Regions from separate parts of the Homo sapiens genome. Here regions 2 and 3 are each reported to be linked to region 1. Evidence: microRNA targets listed by miRTarBase, many of them from high-throughput screens and not tested one by one. Region 1 holds a microRNA gene; each other region holds the end of a gene's coding sequence.
The links. Region 1 holds the annotated microRNA hsa-miR-2467-3p (AGCAGAGGCAGAGAGGCUCAGG, at 5,132-5,153, opposite strand). A microRNA usually pairs through its seed, bases 2 to 8, with sites in the 3' UTR of a target mRNA and lowers its output. Matches are read on the target gene's strand: a 7mer-m8 pairs with bases 2 to 8, a 7mer-A1 pairs with bases 2 to 7 and ends in A, and an 8mer does both.

Region 1 (7,497 bases):
AAAACACACATACACACCTTAACACACACACACTCTGTCTAAAACACACACCCATATCTTAATACAGTCTAAAACACACACACTGTCTAAAACACACACCCTAACACACACATACCCTAACACACACGCTCTAAAACACACCCTGACACACACACCCTGTCTAAACACACACCCTAACACATACACCGTCTCACACACACACACCCTGTCTAAAACACACACACACCACCTAACACACACACCCTGTCTCACACACACCCTATCTAAAACACACACACCCTAACACACACACCCTGTCTCTCACACACACACCCTGTCTAAAACACACACACACCCTAACACATACACATTGTGTCTAAAACACACACACGCACCCTAACACACACACCCTGTCTAAAACACACACCCCATCACACGCACACACCCTAACACACATACACCCTGATTCACACACATACAACCTGTCTAAAACACACACCCTAACACACACTCTAACACACACATACACACAGACACTTTGTGGTATTCCTGAGACATTCAACCACTGCAGAGCATTATTTAAATGCCATAAAAATGCATCTTTATGGATCATTTCTATATTAAAATATAATAATCTTGGCGGCCACAATAGTTAAAATAAACAGATTCAAGATCAAATAAAGTTAGAGCAGAACATGAGGACTGGAAGCAATCCCAGAGGAGAGCCTTCTCCCTGGACTCACAGGGTTAACACTCAACAGTGGTCTGAAGCAACTGTATTACCATGAACTCACTCATCACCAAGTCATTGTGGACAGAGACTTTTTAGCTGCTTTTATGTGGATGGGGGTAGCTCAGACTGAACAGAATATTAAGAAATCATAGAATGGCCCAAATGAACACACTGATCTTAAGTTACACACGTTTCCCACAAAATCCTTTTTTTTTGTTTTGAGACAACAGTCTTGCTCTGTCGGCCAGGCTACAGTGCAGTGGCACCATCTCGGCTCACTGCAACCTCACCTCCCGGATTCAAGCGATTCTCCTGCCTCAGCCTCCCGAGTAGCTGGGACTACAGGCGCGTGCCACCACGCCTGGCTAATTTTTGTGTTTTTAGTAGAGACGGGGTTTGACCATGCTGACCAGGCTGATCGCGAACTCCTGACCTCAAATGATCTGCCCACCTCGGCCTCTCAAAGCACGAGGATTACAGGTTTGAGCCACCGCACCCGGCCACTTATTTTGTTTTGAACTAAACATTATCCGTACCTCGCACCAAGATTCCAGGAGCGAGAGGATGCTCAAGTTACCGACCACTGCCTGCTCAACCAGCTTCCTATCGAGAGCATCATCCCGGTGACCATAGACACGTCCCAGCAAATCCACGTCCCAGCAAATGCACTGCTTCCTATCGAGAGCATCATCCCGGTGACCACAGACACGTCCCAGCAAATCCACTGCTTCCTATCGAGAGCATCATCCCGGTGACCACAGACACGTCCCAGCAAATCCACTGCTTCCTATCGAGAGCATCATCCCGGTGACCACAGACACGTCCCAGCAAATCCACGTCCCAGCAAATGCACTGCTTCCTATCGAGAGCACCATCCCGCTGACCACAGACACGTCCCAGCAAATCCACGTCCCAGCAAATGCACTGCTTCCTATCGAGAGCACCATCCCGCTGACCACAGACACGTCCCAGCAAATCCACGTCCCAGCAAATCCACTGCGGGGCTCCTTGACACTGAGAACTTTTCTGGGCAAGACTTTCTCTAGGCACGAACATTCCGGAAGGGAAAGTAAATGACACTGGAGGGACGGGGTAGTGTTAAGTGGGTGGCCAAGTAACAACGTCTGCCTTTCCTGCTGGCCAGTCAAGTCACCAGTATCCTAAGCCCTTAACCACAAGGAAAGACAAGGACAGTTACTTGGAGAACTGTCCTTGGAGGAAAACAAGGGAATGGGAGAAAAAAAAGGAGGCGTAGCTTGTCCTGCCAGCAGGCCCCCGTGGGCTTTCCGTCCACACTCCCGGTTTCATGCCAGGGACTCTGGCTTCAAGGCAGAGGCTCTGTGTCCTGACAAACGCATCCTGCCCTGCCACAGCGCATCCCCTCAGGGAGGGTGTGGAGGGCTGGCCGGGCAAGGGGCGTAAGGCTCCAGGGCCTCCTTTCAAAGGAGAGCCCTTCCAGGCTAAGTCAATCCAGGTTCTTCCCTCAGGCCGCTCACATCATTAGAAATCGTTCTTTAGAGCAATAAAATCCCAACAGTTAAGCAGCTTTGACGTCAGAGAACCAGGGCCTGGCTCTGGCAAAGTTCAGCGGGAACAGCAATAAAACCGTAACACAAAACTCACCCAGCAGCAGAGGACTTTCACAGAACACAGGAGAGGAAAGCCACACACACTGCACTAGAAGGGCACTTCATCAGCAGGGCAAAGCCAAGTCACATGACAAATGTGAGAGGGGGCCCATGGGCGGCTGGACTCCCCCAGCCCGGCCTGCCCAGGGAGTGAGGGCGGCACGGGCACCCACACCAGGCCACACAGGAGCAGGGCCCCCATGCCAGATGGGCAGGCAAGGGTGAGCCAGGCAGGCAAGAGTGAGCCGGGTGGGCAGGGCGAAGGACAGGGCCAGCTAGCAGAGGACGGCACGAGAGACACACGGAGGGAGGGGAGGTGCAGCCAGGTAGGCCCCGAACACCACGTTGCCAGGACTCGGCTCCTCGGCTCAAGGAAAAGGGACAGCGGTTCCGTGGCTGTGCTCTGACACACCTAGAAATTTCCCGCTCAAGAGAGCAAACTGAATCCTTTAGTATTAATGATTTCTCTTCCTCCCAAAACCCACTAAAATGATGAAAAGCAGGATTGGAAAGCACTTCCAGCAATGCCTGGGAGCGGACGGACAGGTGCATCAGCTGACAAGAAACACAGAGGAACTTCCCGAAACTAGAGATCTCTGGGGATGGAGCTGCTTGGGAAGGCACACAAGCGAGTGGGCCTCGCCCAGGAGGGAGGGCACGGTTCTGGGCAAGCCCCATCCCCCGCCTGAGACGTGGGCAGAGGCCGCTGGGCCACCAGCCAGTGTGTGCAGGTGGTGGTATGCACGTGTTGGGCACAAGGGGTCCTGCCTCCCAAGGGACCTCCGGGCGGAAGGGCAGACACGGCAGGGAAAGATGACAGCGGACAGGGCAGAGGAGGCAGCCAGCAGACTTCAGGCCCCAGGCAAACCACCTCAGCTGTACCCCCTGCACAGATGGAGAGCAGAGAATGGGCTGGGCCAAGGGGCAGCCCTGCCCTCACCAGTGCGGCCTGTCTTCAGCCTCCAACCCACTGAGAGAGAGAATGGAGAGGTCGTGGGTGGCAATAAGGCGCACACAACCCAACTCACATGGGCAGGACAGGCCCGGGCAGGCCGGTGATCAAACTGAACCGCAGCGGCTGAAATTCCCACAGAAAAGGCCAAACAAACCCAGCACCCCGCGGTTTCCAGAGCTGAGCCTCAAAGAACCCGGCCTGAAAAGGTTAGAGACAAGCGGATGGAGAAATATTTGTTAGCCAAAAGAAACCAAGGGTAGAAATACCTCATGAAACACTATAAGCTCTCGGTCAAAGAAACATTAAACAAAGAGAAATATATTATATTTTGATAAGAGACCTGATCTACCAAAAGAACAGTCATTAATTTTTAAGCTTTAAAAAAAAACACTGAACTATATAAAGCAAAAAATGGTTATTAATGTAAAAAGAATATTATAAGACTATAATCACAGTAGAAAAATACACTTTTCCAAGAAATCGAGCAGACAGAAAAAAATAAGTAAAGCTATACTGATTTAAATAACTCAACTGAGTTAATATATAATTAAAACAACATATAAAGAAAGGATACATATCCTCCTATATATAAATAAAATATATATAAATGAGAGAACTTTTTTTTTTGAGACGGAGTCTTGCTCTGTCGCCAGGCTGAAGTACAGTGGCGCAATCTCAGCTCACTGCAACCTCTGCCTCCCAGGTTCAAGCGATTATCCTGCCTGAGCCTCCTGGGTAGCTGGGACTACAGGCACACGCCACCACGCCCAGCTAATTTTTGTATTTTTAGTAGAGATGGGGTTTCACTATGTTGGTCAGAATGGTCTCAATCTCTTGACCTTGTGATCTGCCCACCCTGACCTTCCGAAGTGCTGGGATTACAGCTGTGGGCCTCTGCGCCCGGCCGAGAACTTTAAATACAATATTGATACATACATACAGACGTCTTTAGACTGAAACAAAATCCTAAGAGCATACTTTCTCTTCAAATGCCTGCAGAGCATGTACAAATTATGATTATGTGTACACCAAGTCATACAAAAATATGCACCCCCATTAAAATAATCAAGTGTACTCAAACAATAATTTTCCCATAGCACACTGACAAAAATGAGAGAGACTGAACCTACCCAGTGCTGGTACAGCACAAATGAAAAATATGCATCCTCTTACACTGGAATTAGGAAGATCAGTTGGAACGAGGCTTCTGGAGCAATTTGACAGTCAACCTAATGATGTTTTAAGTGCACGGGCTCACTGACCCAGCTTCCACTTCCTGGAATTTGTCTAGTAGTGATACTTAGAAGTTTACAAAATATATGTATAATAATTGTTTGATGCCAATTTGGAATTGGTATAAACACTGCTACAACCACATAAATATCCATTCGCAAGGTATCAAAAGAGCAAGTTATATTTGCACACATACTGATACCAAAAGATGCTTATAACACATTAAAATGGACAGAATGTAAAACACAGGGCCCTGCCTATAGAATTATACTCTATGAAAATGCTCACACACATCACACTATGTTTAGACACAGAAAAAAGATACACTCTCACCCAACAGCAGCCCAGTGTAGGAGGGAGAGAGCCAGCTCCATTCAATGTCTATTTAGACACTTTGAGCCATAGCGCTTAATTTTGTCTTGGAATGATCATAAACCATTTCTTTACATCAGTCAATACATAAACAATTTAACTCAATAAAACTTTCATATCTAAAAAAACCTGGAATCTTGCCCTCTGGAATTTTCAGACAAAGACGATTCCACCCAGGGAAAGATGTGTGTAAGCGTTCCGGCAATCTCAAAGAGAGTGACCCAGACAGACCCTGAGCCTCTCTGCCTCTGCTCTAAGGAGCAGGACCCAGAGCCAAGGCTAACAGAGCCTCAGGTGCCTGTCCAAGCGTCTGTCCAGTGGCCACCGTCTTCTCTCTCATGTGGACGCAAGACAGAAGTCGATGGCTAAGTGCCCTTGAAGGCCACGGTGCGCTGGAAGTGGCAGGAAGCTGGGCAGCACAGGACTGGCTCTGCAGGAGCCCCACACTCAGGCAGGTCGGCGGCAGGCCTCGAGGTTTCATTATGGTGCACGCTCTCGGTGACTTTCCAAGGACAGAAAGTGTGAAGTCGTAAATGGATGGGCCCATGACATGCTTCTGAAGCTCAGAGCAGGACAAGCTTGCTTCCCAATCATGTGGGTCCCCCACCTACCAGCTCTGTGACCTCAGGCAAATTACTTCTTCCCTCCAGGCCTGAGATGATCTGGGGCTGTACTAAATGCTTGTAAAATGCTTAGTGCAGCCCCTCACAGAGGCCCTCAAACACCAGGAGCAACTGTGGCCACGACCTCAGTGGGAACATGAGCTTCTTCCCAGACAGCCCAGACGCCCAGTTGGAGGAGCACTCCCACCCCTCACACAACCCCTCATGAAACAACAAAGACACTGGGCAAGAAACCAGCTCTCCACATCACAACCTGACCTTTCAACATCACCCTTGTCAAAAAGCATCGAGGAAACCTGTGTGCCTCTCAAGTCAGCCTGCAAACCGGGGTCGCAGACTTGACTCCACATCCTCCCAGGTTTTATCATTCTTCTTTCACCAAGAGGAAGAATAAACCATCCATTTTGCACTTTGTGCTGTCAAAAACCAACAGTGACCACTATCAAGAAAAACAAAAGTCTCAAATCCAGAAAGCAAGCTGCAGTCACAAGAACTTCTACTTTGGGCAAAGAAAGCCCCGCTGTGTGCCCAGAGAAGAAATGACCCGGCCTTACCTGGATGGCTTTGGGAGCTCATTGCTAGCAATGTCCACTCCTTTAAGTGATTCGAAATGGCTCAAAATTTCCACGGAAACGATAGCTCCAACGAGCTCCAAACTCCCACCAACACATACAAGTACCGGGACGGTGAGGGCTGGGTCACAGACGTTCAAGCGCCGAGCCTCGCCGGCAAGGTCTCATGAGCCAGGTAACCCACAAGTTGAACAGAGGCGTCCGCTGGCTTCTGCAGATGAACCTGCAAGGTCAGAAGGAGAAAAGAGACTGGAGTTACAACATGGAAGTTCCGATCTGGAAAACAACATCCAACTAGGGAAATGATGACTTCCTCTTTTTTTTTGGAGACAGAATCTTGCTCTATCGCCCAGGCTGGAGTGTGGTGGCACGATCTGGGCTCACTGCAACCTCCACCACCCCTGCAACCCTGGGTTCGAGCAATTCTCCTGCCTCAGCCTCCCGAGTAGCTGGGAACACAGGTGCATGCCACCAGGCACAGCTAATTTTTGTATTTTTAGTAGAAACGGGGTTTTGCCATGTTGGCCCAGGCTGGTCTCAAACTCCTGACCTCAAGTGATCCACCCACCTCAGCCTCCCAAAGTGCTGGGATTACAGGCTTGAGCCACCACGCCCCACCAACTTCCTTCTTTATCCTTGTTCTGACCAAGGACTGATAGAACAGTTCGACGGAATCATTTCTACAAATACGAGCAGTGGGATTTTTGTTAGTAAATCACAGACATGTAAAAATGTCTCCAGAGAGCAGGGTTTCTCAGCCTCAGTACCACTGGGATTTTGGTTTGCGTATTTAGGTGTTGGGGTGTAGGGCTGCCATACACATTATAAGATATTTAGCAGGATCCTGGGCCTCCACACACCAGATGCCAGCAGCATCTTCCAGGTCATGACAACCAAGAATGTCTCCAGGGAGTGCCAAAGGTCCTCTGGGGGATAATATCATCCCCTGGTTCAAAATATCTGATCTAGAGACACCTTCCTTACCCCTTCCAGAAGTTTCTCCAACATTAGGCTTTTGAAAGGAAGCAGAGTATCTTCCAACTAATATAAATTTATTCTGTCATATTAGCTTATGAAATAAATATGAAATAAAATGTTTTAAAAGAAAAATCACTTTCAGCACATTCCCACCACAAAATGTCATTACTGCACGCTTGCATCAGCCTGGATCCATAGACATTCGTAGTCACAATGTCTGTGTAATCACAGAATTTAATTCTAAAGTCCGCATTCCTCACGTAACATGATAACCTAAAATAGTTCCCTCATGTTTCTGTCTTCATAATGACCATTTTCTCAGGTTTTCATTTTCTGCTTATAAAAGCAATACATGCGCATCACAGGTTAAGTATTTAAAAAGTCATCCATGATGCCATCACACACAGACAAGCCCTTGGTAACA
Region 2 (7,497 bases), not on the chromosome of region 1:
GATCACCTTGCCCTGTGCAGGGGTCACTCCTCACACAAGTACATGAAGACTACAAGTGCAAGAAAGCAGCAACGAGGTCTCCACTTCTGTCAGCACTGGCTGGCAGTCTCTGCTAGAAGCCAACTGTTCGATTAACTATTGACTTGGCCTGCTGACTTTTTCAGGCTACATCAGTGAGGAGGAATGGGCTGGTAAAAGCACGGGAATGCCAAAGGAGACTGGTGACGTATATGGCCTTTGTAAATGGGAAAGAGGACCACACGAGCCAAAGGTTTCCAAATTCAGAGGAAAATAGAAGAATGATCACGAATGACAGGAAGGCAGGTGCTGACAATGTTCTCATGAAGGGGCCTAAGGGAGGGCTCTGAAGCTCAGGAAGGATGGCCACAAGCGGTGGGAGTTGGGGCTGGGACCCAGGAGCAGGACTGATGCCAGACAAGGACCCAGGGAAATGGCATCCATGTGACAGTGCCCAGAGCAAGCTGAGGCTCGAGAAAAATTCTGAGACAGTGCAAAGACTTAAAAACTAAACCACAGTTTGGCAAATGATGAGCACAAGAAGGTTAACTCCCTGTTTGGGGATAGTGGTTAGTGGAGCACCTTCATCCTCGGACATCTACTTGCGTAGGTCAGAGCCCCAGGCTTCACCCAGTTTAAAGTGTTACCCTAAAGTGTGGTGCGTTGACATGCTGAATACTTTGAACTGAAGAAGCAGCCCCAGAACCAAGGTCCCTCTGACCTTCTCTAGACCCTGTCCCACACCTCTTTGCCTCTCCCGAAGGGCAAGGAGGGGCTTTCTTGACTAAGGGAAGTTCCTCCAGAAGGAATGCAGTTGTCTTGGACTCCCTTCCCTAGCTTGTCAAACAGAGATGAACTTACAGGAAAGAAGGCTTGGAAAGACGACTGGAGTGGATACCACACCCGGGACCCAGGGGAACTTTGCTCTAGGCCATTGTCTGTTCTTTGGACCCATTTATCTTCCCTAAAAAATCATTTACTCTTCCTCAGAATTGCAACCCCCAACTCCCTCTCCTCTACAAAGAGGATATTTAAGTTTCAACCATCTGGTTCTTCTTAGAGTTGCACACTTCGTGCAACTCCCCTGGGCTTGCATGTTAATAAATTTGTAGGCCTTTTCTCTGGTTAATCTGTCTATTGTCAGTTTATCTCAGCAGATTCAATTATGGAACCTTCAGAGGGAAAGTTTGAACTTTCCTTCAAAGGGAAGTCTTTATTTCTAACAATGCCCCTCCTCCCTTCTGTGGAAGAGTAGCCTCCTGATAGAGCTTTGGGGCACACCTGGAGGAGGAGAGGAAGGTGTGGCAGCAGGAAGCAGGCCAGGTGGCTCTGCGCAGGGCTGGAGGCTGCACTGGGTGGCCCTCAAGGGCTGTCATACCTTTCCCCATTCACCGCTTCCACATGAAGAAAGTAGTGCCTCTGAGTTCTTCTTGCCCCAGGTCCTACCTCCACATAACCTTCCACAGGAGGGTGTTTCCCCTGAGCAGAACTCTGGGCCTGGCAGCTCCTGGCCAGTATGTGGGGCCCAGATGTGGAACTGTGCTCTGGAGTGGCATTTGTGAGACTGGTTTAACCAGAAACTCCCGGGAATTTGCACCTCTGCATTGACTCTTTCCCACACTTGGAGAATCTGATGAGGTGAATTGGAAATAGGGCTGGGATGAATAACAAGTGTTAACAAGTGCACAGATGATTCTGAGGCCCAGGCAGGCTGGAGCATTCTGCTAGAAGCCAGCAGCTAAGGGAGGAGCCCACCCATCCACCTGGTGGAAGGGAAGACCCCTCTGCTCAGGCGGCTCTGTGAGGTGACACTGAGGAAGCCTAAACAAGACTCTGGTGGTGACAAGCTCAGGGATGTGGCTCCGAGTTTGCTCCACTCACTTTGGACTTCACATCTGAATGATTTGGAAGACCTGTACAAACAGGTGTGTTCAACTTCATGGTGTATCTAGGCCAAAATGTTTCCTACATGCACAGAGTTCAGGTTTTGCCACAGAGCTCCCCTTTTGTATGCAAATGTTTTCCATCATGTGCCTATGGCCACTCCTTGTTGAGACCTTGCATCCTTGCCGGTGGCATACTGGAGCCCCAAAAGTAGCCTGGGGTCCCAAAAGATAGTTAGGTCCCTTCTGATACCTGAATCCATCCTTGTCTTAGGAAAGGGGTCATCAGCTTCCATTGTACATTTCCAGTGGCAGGGAGCTCAGTTATCCCTAGCAGTTGACGTAATGTCAAGACGATCCTAGTGGCTGGATGTCGTGGCTCACGCCTGTAATCCCAGCACTTAGGGTGGCCAATGTGGGTGGATCACTTGAGGTCAGGAGTTCGAGACCAGCCTGGCAACATGGCAAAACCTCGTCACTACTAAAAATACAAAAATTAGCCAGGTGCGGTAGTGCGCACTTGTAATCTCAACTACTCAGGAAGCTGAGGCAGGAGAATTGCTTGAATCCGGGAGGCAGAGGTAGCAGTGAGCTGAGATCGAGCCACTGCACTCCAGCCTGGGCAACAGAGTGAGACTCTGTCTCAAATAAAAAAAAAAAAAAAGATGATGCTCGTCCTCAGAGATGCCTTTCTCACATTGAGTGTCAATCATCTCCCTGCAACTCCCCCACCTAGATGTGCTGCTCTCTTCCTTTGCACAAGACATTGCTGTGGAGACATGAAGACATCCAGTGCACCTCCCCAAAATTTATACAGGCTAAGCAGAGACTGACAGCACTTAGAATTCAATGCACAAATGGATCAACCACCCAGGGAAGCTTGTGAAGATGGAGATAGGGATTCTGGACTTCTCACAAGCCCCTGGTGATGTGGAGGCTGCTGCTGCAGGGACCGCACTTACGAAGTACTGGTTGAGTATTAAAGAGTCCACCTAGAAGTAAGAGGGGCCCAAGACCCTGGCATGGCCCCTCACTTAGTGGCTCTGTGACCGTGGGCAGTTACATCCCATCTTGGCACCTTTGTTTCCTTTACAGTAAAATGAGGCTAATGAGGGCCTCTCTCAAGGGCTTGCTGGGAGGACCAAGTCCAGGCTCAAGCTCCCCACTCATGGGCCAGCGCATGGTACATGTTTGACAATGTGAGCCCTTGGTCATGTTTAGTTGAACAACCCGGGACCTTCAACTGTTTCCTGGAGGTGCTCCACCTCCATGTCCTCTCCCCAGGAGACATTTAGAGGGGTCATACTCATAGAAAAGGGCCAGGGTACTACACAGAAGATGCAGACAACATCTGTAATTTCCACAAACAACATGTTGTCATAAATCTCACCACTGTCCTACTAAACACAATGGCAGAAATAGTGGTTTTGCTGGGCAACCCCTGTGAGTGAAATATCAATTCAGAAGCTGAAAGACCTATCAACCAAGGTCTATCCTGTGAGGCTACACTGGTTCAGCTTTTGTGCTGATTAGAAATGCTGATGAACAGTTAGCTAAATTAATATGCTTTGATATAGCAAGACAAATCTATTAGTATTTAATCAATGTCATCTTTGATAGATTAAAGCTGGGGAAATTCTGAATTTTTTCATAAATTAATGGACAGCTTTGTGTTTCTTGACTTGGCTCAGGTGCCAACCCCTGAAGCCAGAGCAAGTTAGGTGTTCCTCAGAACAACCTATTAAATTACGTAACATGTGGGATTGTAATTATCTTTCTTCTCTGTTAGATTTTAACTCCTTGAGTGCAGAGACCAGATCTTATTGTCATGGTACCATCAGCGCCCATCAAAGTGCCTGGCACAGTGCAAATGTTTGTAAAAGGGAGGGAGGAAAGAAGAAAGGAAGAGAGAGAAGGAGAGAGGGAGGGAAACAAGGAAGGGAGAAAGAAGGAGGGCGTGAGGAAGGAAGAAGGCATACATGACCTCCCTCAGGAGCAAATGGAAAGAGGAAAACATCACTGGCTAGTGAGTTGGGCTTCACTGGATGGAGACTCTCTGCTTGTGTTCCCTGGAGGCATTCTGTGCTTCAGGAAGACAGGCCCAGTGCTGTAAGGGAGTGAGGCGTCCTTCTAGCTGACTTGCTGGGAGCAAGACTTTATGTGTTTAGTTCTACCCACAGCCTTGCCAATATTGGTTCTAAGGAAGAAGATCGCTTCCCCAAAATAAGTTCCCCAAAGTAATATTTTCTCCTGTGGGGACATAGTTACTATAACCGTGGTTCTTATTGAACAGATGGACTCTTCCTTCGTTAGACAATTCTTTTCCTTGGACCCTGAGAATTGCAAAATGAGATATTCCTTCTCATGTTTTAGTGAGATGAAAACAAAGTGGAGAGGATGCTTGAGGTGATTTGGAGGCAGGCCAAAATGCAGCTTTGTTCTTGTCGCTTGCACCCAGTGAGCGACTCATGGGAACCAGATTTTGGGATAGTGATCTGCTTGCACTCCTGGCTGGTTGCGTGGCTGGCAACAGGTGTGGCCAAATTGAATGGCATTGGTTGGGAGGAAAGGAGGGGGCGTTGTGTGGTATTTTCACAATGAAAATCAGGTGTGGCTGCACTTGTTGGGAAAACAAAAAGGTATAAAATCTTGAATCCAAATCAAAGCCCCTGTATTTGTGTGAGTCTGGGACTTGGTTTACTGAATGCCTCCCCATCCTCCCAGTGTGGAAATGGCGCCTTTGCCAACAGGACAAGGACAATGCATCTTGCATGGTCCCCTGGGCCCTGGGCAGCATAGTCCTGGCAGCTGCTGAGGTTTCTAAACAAAGAGGGAGGCACGTTTTGCCCCTGTGTTTCCAGTAGAACAAGAATTAAGAGGCTTCTGTAGAAGCCGTGGCATGGAAACCTATCAATACCCTGGGTGCTGGTTTCCTTCCTAGCCGGCTGCCTGCAAGAGGGCACCTGTTCTGAAGATCGAGCAGGGTCCCCTCCCCAACCATGGAAATACAGGAAAATCTTGGTTTCCTTCAAGGGAAATTCCAGGCACTTAGCTAGCCCTAAGAAGCCAATGAACAACTTGATAAGCAGGAAGGTAATAATAACCTAAAACAACAGCGAAGGAAGCCAGAGTCCTGGGGTGTTTTGTTCCCTCTGGAAATTAAAAAGAACATCTCAACTTCTGACTCCGAGTTGTTTTTCAGAAACCCAGACCCCCACCAAACGGATCCACTGGCACAGAGACCTCAGAGAAGAGGGAGCTGAGGACTGAACTCTGAGCACGGCTCTTTGTTCTATATTTCTTCCTGGGGGGCCTGGGGGAAGTCCCACCCACAAGCCAGAGCTAACATTCCTTTCTGCTAACCCAAATTTTAAAACAAAGCTTCTCTTCCTTAACCAATTGCAATTCAGAAAATGTTTGACTCCACCCTATGACCCGTAAGTCCCTGGTTCAAGATATCCTGCCTTTTTAGGCCGAACCAATGTGTACCCTCCATGTGTTGATTTACAATTTCACCTGTAACTTTGGCTTTCCTGAACATTTCCCTTGCCATTAAAAATCCATGCTTGCAAGCCACGGGGGAGGTTGGGTTTTAAGCGTGAGCTGCCTGATTCCCCTTGCTTGGTGCCCTGCAAATAAACACCCTCCTTTCTCCCACTGCAAACCTCAGTGTGGATTTTGGCTTTACTGTGCTGGGCCAGTGGATCCGTTTCATTAGGTAAAACTCTCAAACTCTTCAGTTAATCCCAACACTTCCCTCCAAATCCCCAAAGGTCAGGAACTGATGGGGGGTGAGGGTGTGAACACACTTTCTTTTTGAGTGGAGGGCACAGGTACTGGTTACTAAATCAGGGCAGTCAGGACCCACTGGAGGGCCTGGCCCTGAGAAGGCATGGACAGGTGTTGAAGGGACAAGGTGGGACGCCAGACTCAGACTGTGGTAGACAGGGAGGTGGCTCTGTCAGCCCTGACCCCTACTGCCCACAGAAGGAAGACAGGAGTCCAGGAAGAGAACCGTATCTGCAAACTTGTTTCACTTTTTAAAAAGTGGGCCTTTTCTTGATCAGAAAATAGCTTTCAGAGGCAAGTTTCTCCCTGTGAAGGAAACCCATTCTGTGCAAATGATCATTTCTGCAAAATTGCCCTGGGCTGGTCCTTAGCCAGTCTGCCTGAGTTGACCTGAATGCCTGCTGAGTCTGAGCTGGGGGCCTTAGGGGTTTGCTCATCAAGGAGCTTACAAGTGAGTGGGTGGGTGTGGGTACAGAGGGACACTTGGGACCAGGCGGTGCCCTTGCCACACCCACCTAATTTGCAGGGCGAGGGAAGAGCAGGGTGGGCCAGGAGAGGGAGGAAGGGAGGGAGGGAGAAGGGCTGGAGTAGAGTGCGCCTGGGAACTGGCACGGAGGGGACCGGGCCAAGCAAGCAGTGCCCCTCCATCAGAGGAGAGCCAGGGAGCCCTTTGGGTGAGGTCGTCTTGGGATCCCTACTGCCTTCTGGACTTTATGGATCTAAAAAGGCTAAGTATGTGTTGATGATCGTGTGTGTGTGTGTGTGTGTGTGTGTGTGTGTGTGTGTTGCTTGTTTTGGGGGAGGGGGAAGTAAGCTCCTCTGGGTTCATCTGGGGGTGGGGGACAGCCTGCAGTAACTCAAGAAATGCCTTCTGTGGCAAAGTCCTCTAGGTCATCAGTGGAGATGATGCCCAGGCCTGGAGCTTCTACACCCTCCTCTCCTGGGCTCTGGGGAGGACCATGAGGGCGCTGGCCTGCAGAGTGCGGGGTGCAGTCACCGTGAGGCCCTGGGTCCAGCTGTAGTCCAGACTCGTGGACACTCTGGGTCCTGGCGCGGGCCGCGGAGGCACGAGGGCCCTGCCTGAGGAAGGTGGGCGCGGAGAGCTGAGAGGAGCAGCGCAGCGGCATCAAGGCCGTCACGGGCACTGGCTGGAAGCCGGGGTACAGCACATAGGGAGCGGCCAGGGCGTCCGGTGGGGGCGGCTCTGGGGAGGCCCCCTCGGAGGACGGGATGGAGACCTTGACATACTTGCCCGTCTCTGGGTCATAGAAGGTCTTGATTTTCACCTGGAGTGGCAAGTCGAAGACAAAGTACTCCCCGGACTGCGGATCCTGGAGGACCTTCTGGGTGGCGGGGTACGCGGGCAGGGGTGTGAGGGACTGGGGGCCCCCGGGCCGCCTCCCGACAGGCTCCGAGAAGCCGGACACGGAGTGGCGGTGCACGGGAGGGGGCAGGGAACGGACCACGGGGAAATTGTGTCGGGGCCTCTCTCTGGGGCACAGCGGCCTTTGCTGTGTCTGCTCCAAGTCCTCCGGGCAGGGCTTTCCCTCCTGTGACTCGCCATGCTTCTCCTGAGCCTGATCCGTCTTCCTCCTCTTACTTGCCAGCTTCTTTGCCCGCCGCAGGGCTTTCTCTGTTTTGGGTGGGACTGCAGGTGGCTTGCTTGCTGTCCTCTCTAGCTGTGCAGGAAGCTCAAGTCTCCCAGAGGTGCCTGCTGGGCTGGTGGCCACATCCAGCAATGAACCTCTTGGAGAGAGGGTCCGGAGGTCTTCTGCCGACAGCTCAAGTAGGGGGTCAGAGCCGCCCT
Region 3 (7,497 bases), not on the chromosome of region 1:
CTACTTCCCTTTATTGCTAAAATGGGAGCTTTTTCATCCAGTTTTTTGGGTGTGTTCCAAATATTTTGTTAAATTTCCCGTCTATTGCTGTTATTGTTTCCATTTATTTGCCCATGTGAGTTGATACCTTTTTCATTCCTTTCCCATAGCTTTAGTGACGTTGTGGGAAGGGAAGTTAGGTAAGTGATGTTTCATCTTGTACTTACTAGACACCTTTTTCTTCCTTGATTTCCTGAGTTCCCTGCCTCCACAGGTGTGTTTCACTCCTGGTTGCTTATATTTTTTTATTTTTGAGATGGAGTTTTGCTCTGTTGACCAGGCTGGAGTGCAGTGGCATGATCTCGGCTCACTGCAACCTGTGCCTCCTGGGTTCAAGCGATTCTCCTGCCTCAGCCACCCAAATAGCTGGGATTACAGATGCGCACCACCATGCCCAGCTAATTTTTGTATTTTTAGTAGAGACGGGGTTTCACCATGTTGGCCAGGCTGGTCTTGAACTCCTGACCTCGTGATCTGCCCACCTTGGCCTCCCAAGGTGCTGGCATTACAGGTGTGAGCCACCGTGCCCGGCCTCTGGTTGCTTATTTAACCCCTTTGTCACGATGGAGGCTTTTCTCTTTTTTTTTTTTTTTTTTCAGATGGAGTCTCTCTCCATTGCCCAGGCTGGAATGCAGTGGTGCTATGTCCGCTCACTGCAAGCTCCGCCTCCCGGGTTCACACCATTCTCCTGTCTCAGCCTCCTGAGTAGCTGGGATTACAGGCATGCACTACCACGCCCGGCTAATTTTGTATTTTTAGTAGAGACGGGGTTTCTCCATGTTGGTCAGGCTGGTCTTGAACTCCTGACGTCAGGTGATCCGCCTGCCTTGGCCTCCCAAATGGTAGGATTACAGGCGTGAGCCACCAGACCCTTTTTTTTTTTTTTTTTTTTTTTTTAAGAGACAGGGTCTCCTGTCGCCCAGACTGGTGCAGAGCTCACTGCAGCCTCAAAAACTCCTGGATTCAAGTGATCCTCCCACCTCAGCCTCCAGAGCAGCTAGAGCCTAGCTAAAAAATTTTTTAAAAACATTTTATGGCCAGGCACGGTGGCTCATGCCTATAATCCCAGCATTTTGGGAGGCTGAGGCAGGTGAATCACGAGGTCAGGAGTTCAAGACCAGCCTGGCCAAGATGGTGAAACCCCGTCTCTACTAAAAATACAAAAAATTGGCCAGGCTTAGTGGCAGACGGCTGTGATCCCAGCTACTCGGGAGACCGAGGCAGAGAATTGCTTGAACCTGGGAGGTGGAAGTTGTGGTGAGCCGAGATTGAGCCACTGCACTCCAGCCTGAGCGACAGAGTAAGACTCCGTCTCAAAAAAAAAAAAGTATTTTACCCATCCACAGGCAGCAGACAAGGAAGTACCTTCTGTGACTGTCTGGCAAGGTCAGAGGCATCAGGGAAGGTAAAATACTGAAACTATATTTTTAAAAATAAAAGTATTCCCTTTTGAGTGTGAATTAGGAATCAATGCCCCTTCTCACTACTTTTGTGAAAAAAATCACAGCTCCTGCAGCAAGTCTATGCCTGGGTAACAACCAACCCACAAAATCCAAGAGGAGGTCCCCCTCTCCCGCCTCTGTGAGGCTTGAGGAGCAGTATGTATCTGGGCCAGCCTGGTCCTCAGAGTGTGGAATTAACACCTTTCCTCTAGCAACTGTTTGTGCTGCTGAGAACAGCACAGACTCTCTGGCAGCCTGGTTCTCTCCAGAGGGAAGCCTGTGAAGCAGAAGAAACATATGGCATCTGCACTCAGGGCGCCCAGTTCCATCCGGCCTTGCTATAAAATGACTTTGCCTTTCCTTTTTTAAAATTACAAAAATAATTCAACCAATACATAAACATATGAAGTGAATCACGGAGGGCCTTCCTGCGATATCTTTTTTTGCCTACCATTTGTCATGGAATGGGTAAAGGGGACCACAGAGGGAAGAGACGCTGCCCCTTCGCAGGGCCATGGCAGTCCCCTGGGCTGCGTCTCCACGGTGCTTCCTGTGAAACGCTGTTACCACGGGCACCGCACTGGAGACCATGAAAGGGAAGAGTTTGACATCTCAGCTGTCTTTGCTATAAATAGAAATAAATAAACCTTAACTAAGGCTTGAGTACACTTAGGCCGGGCAAGGTGGCTCACACCTGTAACCCCAGCACTTTGGGAGGCCAAGGTGGGTGGGTCATGAGGTCAGGAGTTTGAGACCAGCCTGGTCAACATGGTGAAACCCTGTCTCCACTAAAAATACAAAAAATCAGCTGGGTGTGGTGGCAGGTGCCTGTAGTCCCAGCTACTCAAGAGGCTGAGGCAGGAGAATCACTTGAACTCAGGAGGCAGAGGTTGCAGTGAGTCGAGATCAAGCCACTGGAGTCCAGCCGGGGCAACAGAGCGAGACTCCATCTCAAAACAAAAAACAAAAAAAAATTTTTTTATCAGTCACCTTAACCAAATGATCAAGGTACATCACCAGTCTAATACTAATAAAAACTCTGTACATGATTGAATAAATTAATCAGTGGGGGAGAAGAGAGAATTCTCCCTTGCAGAGGAGTTGAATAATTAATGTAGGTAGCTACTCTGCCCTTAAGGAGAGCATGTAACTTCCTTGAGGTGTGGGCTGCATGTACATAATGACTTCCTTTCAAAGAGTAGGATACAGGCCAGGGCTCAGCACAGTGGCTCATGCCTGTAATCCCAGCACTTTGGGAGGCCAAGGTGGGCGGTTCGCTTGAGGTTGGGAGTTCAAGACCAGACTGACCAACATAGAGAAACCCCATCTCTACTAAAATACAAAATTAGCCCAGTGTGGTGGCAAATGCCTGTAATCCCACTTGGGAGGCTGACGCAGGAGAATCGCTTGAGCTGGAGAGGCAGAGGTTGCAGTAAGCCAAAACCGTACCATTGCACTCCAGCCCGGGCAACAAGAGCAAAATTCCATCTCAATAATAATAATAATAATGTAGTGAGACAAGAATGGGCAGCTCCCCAACAGAAAAGATTTTCTAAGAAACTTAATGTTTGCCAAGCCTCACTAAATCAAAATCAAACAATGACATAATCTGTTTTTGCCACTTAGACTGGCAAAGTTTTAAACATTGATAATACTGTTGGCAAGCACGTAATTTTTGTATCACAGTAACATAAATTGGTAAAAACCTTTGGCAAGTGTAAATGACAATGAATTAAAATTTTAAATGTCCCTACTCTTTGACCCAACAATTCTACTTCCAGGAATAATATCCTGAAGTGATTTTCACCAACGCTCAAAAATAAGAATAAGGTTGGGCATGATGGCTCATGCCTGTAATCCCAGCACTTTGGGAGGCCCAGGCGGGCAGATTACTTAAGCTCAGGAGTTCAAAACCAGCCTCGGTAACATGGTGAGACCCCATCTCTACAAAAAAAAATACAAAAATTAGCCGGGTGTGGTGGTGCAGGCCTGTAGTCCCATCTACTTGGAGGGGTGAGGCAGGAGGGTCACTTGAGACTGGGTCGAGGCTGCAGTGAACCGAGATCATCATGCCACTGTATTCCAGCCTGGGTGACAAAGTGAGAGCTGGTCTCAAAAAAAAAAAAAAGAGAACAAAGATGTTCAGTTTGGGTCAAGGGCTCATGCCTGTAATCCCAACTACTTAGGAGGTTGAGGTAGGAGGATCAATTTAGCCCAGGAGTTTGAGACTGGACTGGGCAACTTAGTGAGACCCCATCGCTACAAAAATAAATAAGCAATAAATCTTTTTTAAAAAGATGTTCAGGCCAGGCACAGTAGCTCACGCCTGTAATCCCAGCACTTTTGGAGACCGAGGTGGGCGGATCACGAGGTCAGGAGTTTGAGACTAGTCTGACCAACATGGTGAAACCCCGTCTCTACTAAAAATACGAAAATTAGCTGGGTGCGGTGGCATGTGCCTGTAATCCCAGCTACTCAGGAGGCTGAGGCAGGAGAATCGCTTGAACCCAGGAGGTGGAGGTTGCAGTGAGCTGAGATCACGCCACGGAATTCCAGCCTGGGCGACAGAGTGAGACTCCGTCTCAAAAAAAAAAAAAAAAAAATGTTCGGCCAGGCGTGATGGCACCCACCTATAATCCTAGCACTTTGGGAGGCCGACAGAGGTAGGCAGACCACTTGAGGTCAGTTCGAGACCAGCCTGGCCAACATGGCAAAACCCCATCTCTACAGAAAATATAAAGATTAGCTGGGCATGCTGGCATGTGCCTGTAATCCCAGCTACTTGGGAGGCTGAGGCAAGAGAACTGCTTGAAGCTGGGAGGCAGAGGTTGCAGTGGGCCGAGATCACGCCTCTGTACTCCGGGCCAGAGTGACACTCTGTCTCAAAAAAAGAAAAAAAAAATGTTCATTGTGGTACTGTGGATAACAGCCATGTACTAGAAATCCCCCATGCCTGTCACTAGAGGAACCAGGAGATAAATGCCGGGACAGCTACACGCAGAAAGGAAGGTGGATGGTGTTTCCAGGGCAAGGAAGATGTGTGTGTATTGGACATGTCAACATGTCTAACACATGCTGATCAGTGAAAGCAGGTTGCATAGTAGTGTGAACAGAATGTTCCTGTTTTTGTAAAAGAAAAATGGGTTTATGCAAATAAAAGGCAATATGGTAGAATATTCACCAAGCTGCCAGGAATCAGGATCCCAGAAGAGAAGGGATAGAGAGCACTCTCACTTTATATACACACACGCCTTTTTAAAATGAGTATATATTTGTCTAATAAGCAGAAAAATACAAATAAAAACAAATCATTAGTAGAGCGTTTCTCATAATTACTTTAAAATGTCTTAGCATAATGAATGGTGCATACGCTACAATTTATCCATCCTTATTTATTTATTGAGTCGGGGTCTCGCTCTGTTACCCAGGCTGGAGTGCAGTGGCGCCATTTCAGCTCACAGCAGCCTCTACCCAGGCTCAAGCGATCCTCCTACCTCAGCCTCCCGAGTAGCTGGGACTACAGGCGTGCGCCACCAGGCCCGGCTATATTTTTTTCTATTTTTGGTAGAGACGGGGTTTCATCATGTTGGCCAGGCTGGTCCCGAACGCCTGAGCTCAACCGATCCGCCCGCCTCAGCCTCCCAACGTGCTGGGATTATAGGCATGAGCCACCACGCCCGGCCTATCCATCCTTATTCATATTATGTAGGAATCAGAGCTCTCCATAATGTCCACTATTATAAATGAACAGCATAATTCCCTTGGTCATAACTTCCATTCCAAATTCTTGCTCAGCTCTCGGCCCCGTGTGACACCTGGGGGTAAGAACCAACTACGTATGCGCTCAGAAACTCACCTGGGGTCTCCTGGCTGCCGTGACTGAGTACCAGGGGCCTAGGCAGAGGGAGCAACCGAGAGAAGAGAAGGCAAGACCAGGCCCAGCCCCTTCATCGGCCCTCGCCAGATCACTCTCTCTCAAGGGGTCAGGATTCAGACTTTCGTGTTTCTCTCCAAATCTGAAGTTTACAAAAGTAGCCGAGCTGCTCATCAGGGATATGCAAGTCTGCTTTCTGCAGCAGAGAACAGAAGTGAAAGGGAGAAGGGATGAGCAAGAAAGTCTCTGGATTTCAGGAGAAGGAAGACAGCCCCAAGGGCAGGAGAAACACTTGTGAAGGGTCCATTGAAGAGACAGAGAGGGGGCAGCTCTGGCCTCTCTGCTGCCACTTCCCTCATTCGATGCACAGCGGTGGGGCTCACACCATTTTCCACTCAGCCTCTTCCGCACAACCTGCACATCTATCGTTTCTTCAGGGGCTGGAGCTGGTTCCACGATGCCTAGCCAAAATCAGGAGGGGGTCCTGGGGCCAGCGACTACCACTGTGACCAGATTATTATAAAGATGGGGGAATGTGGCTTTAAAAAAGTGGGGAAAGGACCCAATTTTCCAAAATGCAAATTTTTTCTTCTATTGCCCCCCATCATTTGCACCTATTTTTGTCAAGTCCAAACATAATTTGAAGTGAGGTAGGTAGTTTCTCTCTACTTCTGCCGTTGTCCTTGGGGTGATGTCGGGGCCTGTGCCCTAAATGCACTTGTCTCCTGTGCAGGGGCAGTGCCAGGGCTGGCATCAGTGGCTGGTGGAGCTTCTCAGTTGGCTATTTTCTCAATCTCGTCCAAATCATCTGTGTCCAATCTTTCTATCTTCTTATCTGGGGGAAAGATACACAAGTCTCTACCCTGCCCAGGAATGTGCCCCACCTCAGGCCACAGCAATCATTCATTCAGGCCCAAAGGCTCCGGGTGCCTAAGCAGGGGGCAGCAGGGCCCCTAGTCACTGACAGCAACAGTCAGAGCCCCACGCCCCGAAGCCCAGTCACAGGGGAGCTGTCCTTGGAGTCCCTGGGTCCTGAAGTCTCCAGGTGTGCTCCCTGAGAACTGCCATATGGTCAGAAAGGAGGGGAGTGTGCTAGGGACAGAGCCTCTCTTGGGGCTACAGAAGATCCTACCCCTTTCACCACCCCGCCCTACTTAGCAAAGGGCGCCAGGCACAGGACCCTCCCCGGGACTCACTAAAATGCTCCTGGATTCTGTTCAGGATGTTCATGCTGTGCTTGCTGTCCACCATGTTCACTGCCAGGCCCCTCTTGCCAAAGCGGCCCGTGCGCCCGATCCGGTGCAGGTAGGTCTCATTGTCAGGATTCCCGTCCTTGTCCACGGGAAGATCAAAGTTGATGACGACAGACACTTGTTCAACATCAATGCCTGCAGGAAGGAGAGTTGGAGGCTGAGAGGACTAAGGACAGGAGACAGAAATCACTGTCATCCATAGGTAGGTCAATGCGTACCAACTTTGGGATAGAGGGAAAGAATTTGGGACAGGCCAACTCTGGGTACAAGAGAGGGCACACATATAGGCAGGCAACAGAACCCAGAGGAAAAGAAGAGAACTTTGGCAAGTGCCAACAAAATCATGAGATCAGTCGGTAATCCTCTGGGAGACACAATGTTCTGGAGATGGGCGCCCCTGGAAGAGTAGGCTCCGTTCTCTACCAGTCAGATGCCTGTACATTTCCTTCCACCAAGTCAGGACTACTGGTTTCTGCGGGAGTTCCTTTTCTTTCTTTCTTTTTTTATTTTTGAGACGGAGTTTCGCTCTTGTTGCCCAGGCTGGAGTGCAATGGCGCGATCTCACTCACCGTAACCTCCACCTCCCGGGTTCAAGCGATTCTCCTGTCTCAGCCTCCTGAGTAGCTGGGATTACAGGCGCATGCCACCACGCCCGGCTAATTTTTGTATTTTTAGTAGAGATGGGGTTTCACCATATTGGTCAGGCTGGTCTCGAATTCCTGACCTCAGGTGATTCGCCCACCTCGGCCTCCCAAAGTGCTGGGATTACAGGCGTGAGCCACTGGGCCTGCCCTCTTCCTTTTTTTTTTTGGAGACAGAGTCTCACTCTGTCACCCAGGATGGAGTGCTATAGCACATTCTCGGCTCACTGCAACCTCTGTCTCCAGGG

Region 2: miRTarBase lists C10orf71 as a target of hsa-miR-2467-3p. The part of its 3' UTR that is shown has no 7-base or 8-base seed match.
Region 3: the mRNA of DDX19A is a reported target of hsa-miR-2467-3p. Seed matches in the 3' UTR shown: 7mer-m8 at 5,380-5,386.

What each region holds. Positions count from the first base shown.
Region 1 is chr2:239,346,601-239,354,097 of GRCh38, forward strand. MIR2467 (microRNA 2467) reads right to left here and starts at 5,204; the gene lies at 5,124-5,204. HDAC4 (histone deacetylase 4) reads right to left here. Exons shown (of 27, transcript NM_001378414.1): 2 at 6,078-6,318. The coding sequence starts at 6,099. RefSeq lists a silencer at 5,867-6,060.
Region 2 is chr10:49,325,904-49,333,400 of GRCh38, reverse strand. C10orf71 (chromosome 10 open reading frame 71) reads right to left here. Exons shown (of 3, transcript NM_001135196.2): 3 at 5,909-7,497. The coding sequence ends at 6,548. Among named protein-coding and RNA genes, the nearest start is that of C10orf71, 30 kb to the right of the region's middle.
Region 3 is chr16:70,370,618-70,378,114 of GRCh38, reverse strand. DDX19A (DEAD-box helicase 19A) reads right to left here. Exons shown (of 12, transcript NM_018332.5): 11 at 6,552-6,743; 12 at 4,732-6,190. The coding sequence ends at 6,129. It overlaps ST3GAL2 (ST3 beta-galactoside alpha-2,3-sialyltransferase 2), which reads left to right. Exons shown (of 7, transcript NM_006927.4): 7 at 1-2,138. Among named protein-coding and RNA genes, the nearest start is that of DDX19A, 27 kb to the right of the region's middle.